Regions from separate parts of the Homo sapiens genome. Here region 2 is linked to region 1. The links come from fine-mapping of genetic effects on gene expression. Tissue or cell type: whole blood. Region 1 holds a variant in brackets; the other region holds the start of a gene. All regions are shown on one strand. Distances are from middle to middle.

Region 1 (2,698 bases):
AGTAGCTGAGATTACAGGCATGCACCACCACGCCCCGCTAATTTTTTGTGTTTTTAGTAGAGATAGGATTTCACCGTGTTGGCCAGGCTGGTCTCAAACTCCTGACCTCAGGTGATCCACCCACCTCTGCCTCCTAAGGTGCTGGTATTACAGGCATGAGCTACCGCGCCCAGCCTTCTAGCAACTTTAAATGAACCTGATTTATCTGAGCTACTCAGACACCCATGTTTGCAAACCTTCTTGACTGATAACCCAGCCAAACCTGGAGGGGTCCACAGTGCCATCCTCTCTAGGATGTGTTTTTCCATATTAGTCTTTTAGCCATGTGAGTTGGGACCAACTAGTCAGATGTGCTGATGCCTTTCTAGACCTCTCCCAGGTACCAGAAGGTGACAGGGAGAAAACAGTGACTGAAACAGAAGGGTTTGGGGCTCAGGCTTGTGTGTATATGTGCTGAGGGGTAGGGGAAAAGGAGAAAGGGCAGCCTAGAAGGGAGAAAGCTGCAGAAAAAGACAAGCAGGAATAAAGCAGTATGATTTGCTTGGCTATCCAAGGAACACAGAGAGCTGAGCTTTCTTTGAAAACCAAGAACAGCTTGATCTCTGAGGAGCGTCAGGCCTGGGGTGGCTTATATCTCAAACAAGGTAAGCTCCAATATAGGATATAAGATCTATAAGAAAAGTAATCTTGGCTGGGTGTGGTGATGCATGCCTGTAATCCCAGCATTAGGGGAGGCCAAGGTGGGAGGATCGCTTGAGCCCAGGAGTTCAAGACCAGCCTGTGGAACATAGGGAGACCCCCATCCCTAAAATTTTTTTTTAATTGTTTTTTGAGATGGAGTTTCTGCTCTTGTTGTCCAGGCTGGAGTGCAGTGGCATGATCTCAGCTCACTGCAACGTCCGTCTTCCGGGTTCAAGAGATTATCCTGCCTCAGCCTCCCTGGTAGTTGGGATTACAGGCGACCGCCACCACACCTGGCAAATTTTTTGTATTTTTAGTAGAGTTGGGGTTTCACCATGTTGGCCAGGCTAGTCTCAAACTCCCGACCTCAGGTGATCCACCCACCTTGGCCTCCCAAAGTTCTGGGATTACAGGCATGAACCACTGCAAACGGCCTGCAAAAAAGTTTTTAAAAAGTTATCTTGTCTGACTTGCTCACCACTGTATCCCCTGCACCTACAATTATA[C/A]TGAATGAACAGATGAGTGAATGAATGAGTGAGTGAATGAATGAAGTGAGTTGAAACTAGAGGGATCAGAGAGAAAGTTCTGATTTTCACAATGATCAAGGGCATTTGAGTCTCAGGACTACAGTCAGGTTACATATGGATTAAAGTGATAGGAAAGTTGGTTTCAATGTAAACACTTGACTTCTAAGGTGGACCTGGTGGGCTCTTGAACTCTACATGACCCCACTGCTTGCACAATGACCTGCAGTAAAAGAATAAGGGAGGCAGGCATTCCTGTGGCCACAGCCTTGCCCCTGCCCTGCCCTCCCTTCTGAATCCAGGTGGGGGCAGGGAAAGCCACAGTGTGAGCAGAAGACCTGGGCGTGAGGACGTTGGTGCCCCCCTTCCCCCCTCCCACTGCATGGCCCTCGCCACCTCACCTTCCCTTTCCTCTTGCCTCTTCTGGAGGTATCCAAAGGTGAAGGGATCAGTAGTTCACCTCTAAATAGCAGTTCATATTTAAATGTTTACTTAATGTTCATACATTTACAAGTGGCAAAAATGGAAGTGGTCTTAAAAATTATTCAGAACACCCTTTTTTTTTTTTTAAGATCAGTCATATGGAGGCCCGAAAGGGGAAAGGGACGCATCTAGGGTTTCATAGTAGTGGAGTCAGAACTCAAACCCAGGTCTCTGAACTCCCAGGTCATTGCTGCTTCTACTGTTAATGATTTCAAAGTAGTTTCATGGGAGGAGCTGAGAGTGGAGCTCACACCTATAGTCCAGCTACTTAGGAGGCTGAGGCCAGGATTTCGAGGATTACTGGATTACCAGGAATTTGAGACCAGCAGTGAGACCCGTCTTTAAAAAATGTAGTAGTGTTGTGGGAAAGGAAGATGTATCAGCAGTAAACTAGGGAATTTGTCATGAGAATGAGCCTTGTGGATCTTGTCCTAGTTCTAGAAGATATAGTACATCATAGAAGGGAACTGTGTGGACCTACCAGATCTACATTACAAAAAGTGTACGTGAAAAATTACATTTATTAGAAACAGAGCAGAGGTTGGCATGGTGGCTCATACCTGTACTCCAGTATTTTAGGAGGCCAAGGCAAGCAGATCACTTGAGGCCAAGAGTTTGAGACCAGCCTGGTCAACATGGCAAAACCCCATCTCTACCAAAAAATACAAAAATTAGCCGGGTGTGGTGGTGCATGCCTGTAGTCCCAGCTACTCAGGAGGCTGACGCACGAGAATTCCTTGAACCCAGGAGGCAGAAGTGCAGTGAGCCGAGATCGCACCACTATACTCCAGCCAGGGTGACAGAGTGAGACTCTGTCTCAAAAAAAAAAAACAAAACCACAACAGAGTAAAGTTTTGCCCCCAAGCCTGGTACTCATTGCTGCCCCTTCTCAGCCGTACACAAGATACATTTGTTATTACTGCATGGTCTTTTACATATGAAAGGCATTTCACACACGTTATTCAAGTAAGAAATGGTTATGTCTGGTTTTGTACATTTTGATGTAAAAC
Region 2 (2,681 bases), 87 kb after region 1:
GGCCCCTTCCTCAGAGAGATGAGGGAGAAAGGCAGACCAGGGCAGATGTGGATGTAGGTAAATGTTGTGGTGTGTGGGGAATTAGCTTGTTAAGGGTCACGCCCAGATACCTTGGGATTTTTCACGTGGGTATAAAATATGATTCTCTGATGAGAATGATGGTCAAGGTAATGTGGGGGTCGTGGTGGTGGTCTGACGCAGCAGTAATAAGGAATGGGAGAAGCTGACTACAGACTCCCAGAAAGATTGCTGAAGGGCCCAGCTGAGGATGGTGACTGGGATTTGCACTGGACTCAACCTGCAGGTTTCGATGGTGCTTTCCAACTCCAGGAAAACTGGGCTGGGATTTGACAAAACTCTTGAGGAAAAGGACTCACAGAATTTAAAACTGCATTTCCCTTTAGGTTTCGTCTGCTTTCCATCCTCCCCTACCAAGCCCCACAACTGCGGCGAGCATGTTTTCTGCAGTTAACTGCACTGCGCTCTCAGCAGGACAGAAATGACGAATAACTCTAGCCAAGCTGAACAAGATAGGGCTTGGGCTTGGTAACTTTATTTGCATCAGCATTTGCAACACAACACCTAAATGAAAAAATTAACTATAAAGCCGACATCACTTACTCTGGGTCAGGGAACTGTGCCATTCGCTTTAAGTGCATTTACTTAATCTCAAAAAAGTATTAAGAAGTGAGTCCTTTTATTAATCCGACTTTACACACCAGAGGTCTAAGGCCTAAATAAATGAGCAATTTGCTTAAGATCATATGGCTGGTTATTGGTGGAGTCATGCAAGTCTGGAAACAGAGTCATCGCTAACTCCGGTTCAGTGCTACACGAGTGAACTGTCTACAACAAAGCAATAACATATTATGAGTGCCCACAGTATCGAACACATACGGTAACCGCAGTCCAGCCAGCACCCCTGCAGTGCCCAGAGCACCAAGCACCCATCCGTTGACCCCGCATGCGTGACGCTCACGCGCGCAGTCCCCCTGGCTTCTTCCAGGAAGGCTGAAGCGGCCTAATCTCGGCCAAAAGATCAGGACGACTCGATCTGGGCTGGACTCCTTCTGCCTGAGCATCTGATCCGAGCGTCGGCCGGGCTGGGAGGAGCCGGCCCCCGGGAAAGATTTCGGACTGGGGGACAGGAAAACAGAGGGCGGAGTCTTGGGGGGGGGAAGCGAGAAGCCGCATCAACCATGTAAGCAGCTTCGCTTCCTGCCGCAACCGTCCGCGGCCTGAGGAGCCCACCGCCGCTCTCGGGGGCCGACTTCCGGGGGCTGAGCCGTTGAAGCGGAGGCTGGGGCGGGGGGCAGCCGGCGCGGCCGGGGCAGGAGGCGCAGGTAAGGGAGGGGGCCTGGAGCTTGGCCGGCTGGGGCTCAGCATGGGAAGGAGGCCGGTATGGGGAGCTCCAGGGCCAGAGCTGAGGTGAAAGTGAGAACCAGGGCTCCGCAGTCGGGGGCTAGGGCCTGGCTGCCGGCTGAGCAAGGAAGGGCAGAGAATCTGGCTTTAGAATTAGCTTGTCCTCCCTATTCCCCGGCTGCCTTGTCTGGCGAGTGGGGACGGAAGCCGGGTGGGGCCCTTGAGATTTCCTTGGAAACATTTGAAGTTCCTTTGCCTCTCTCTCGACCCTTACGCCTGAACTTAATTAGGAGGGGAAGAGTACAGTTACTTTTCCCTCTGAGTGCATGAGTTCTGAGTTTGTCAGAGGCGCATCCGTAGGCTGGAAAAGAAAGTTCATGAGCTGCAGAAACGATACCAACCGTGGGGGTTCAAATAAGTGTTTGTCTTTTTAAATGCTTGCCTCTGCTATTTGAGACGATTCCATTTCAACTTAGGTTTTGGAGTTTCTTGAGGAGGAGCATTATTTCCCAATTAGTGTTTACCCTTTGCTTAGAATGTTCCCAACAAAAGGATGAGAATGGAATGTGTTGGAAACTTTTAGGACTTAGGGGTTTTCTGCCCAATCAGAGGTTATTCCTAAGACAGTCAAGAAATATAAGAAGTGCTAGAATTCTGTATAAAGCAAGTTATTCGTGTGTATCTGATGTGTATACATGATTCATTATCTACTATTGACGCAGTGCATCCTGTGTTGTAAAATATGTCCAGTGTTGACAATAGAGGTAGTCGCTTGGTATAATGTACTTATTTCTGATTTATTTGAGCCCCTTTTTTGGCACTCCAAAACTCCCACTCTGTCAGTTTTCTTACAAAAAATGTTCTTTCTTTTGTGTTTGTGACAAAGATTGTGTAGGTTAAATCTCTTCTGTGGAGCAAGGCTAATTTCCTGTGTTCTCCCTTTTTCTGCTTTCTGGATCCTGCTCTGGTTTTCCTTTAAGCGTGTTGGTCAAAAATTGAACAAGAAATCTTTGTTGATAGAAGCTAACATTTCCAATATTCAGCTTTCCTAAATTATTACATTGCCAGTTTTTTTTTTTTTTTTTTTTGAGAGACAGAGTCTCGCTCTGTCCCCCAGGTTGGAGTGCAGTGGCGCGATCTCCTCCGACTGCAACCTCCGCCTCCCAGGGTTCAGGCGATTCTCCTGCCTCAGCCTCCTGAGTAGCTAGATTGCAGGCGCGCGACACCACACTCGGCTAATTTTTGTATTTTTAGGGGAGACGGGGTTTCACCATGTTAGCGAAGCTGGTTTTGAATTCCTGACCTCAGGCGATTCACCC

Alleles and levels. Positions count from the first base shown, and alleles are read on the strand shown. Sizes are in standard deviations (SD) of each study's normalised expression.
For the expression in whole blood of the gene that starts at base 1,183 in region 2, allele A in region 1 goes with a lower level than allele C (moderate effect, 0.56 SD a copy in GTEx).

The links. PIP is the estimated chance that this variant, and not a neighbour inherited with it, causes the effect.
Region 2: it holds the start of PIKFYVE, and the variant in region 1 is fine-mapped to the expression of PIKFYVE in whole blood (GTEx, PIP 0.98).

Annotation. Positions count from the first base shown.
Region 1 is chr2:208,177,943-208,180,640 of GRCh38, forward strand. The region is part of intron 6 of C2orf80 (chromosome 2 open reading frame 80); the gene reads right to left. Among named protein-coding and RNA genes, the nearest start is that of C2orf80, 11 kb to the right of the region's middle. The variant C/A (reference allele first, on the strand shown) is at 1,188.
Region 2 is chr2:208,265,073-208,267,753 of GRCh38, forward strand. PIKFYVE (phosphoinositide kinase, FYVE-type zinc finger containing) reads left to right here and starts at 1,183. Exons shown (of 42, transcript NM_015040.4): 1 at 1,183-1,343. RefSeq lists an enhancer at 1,020-1,069 and a silencer at 1,200-1,469.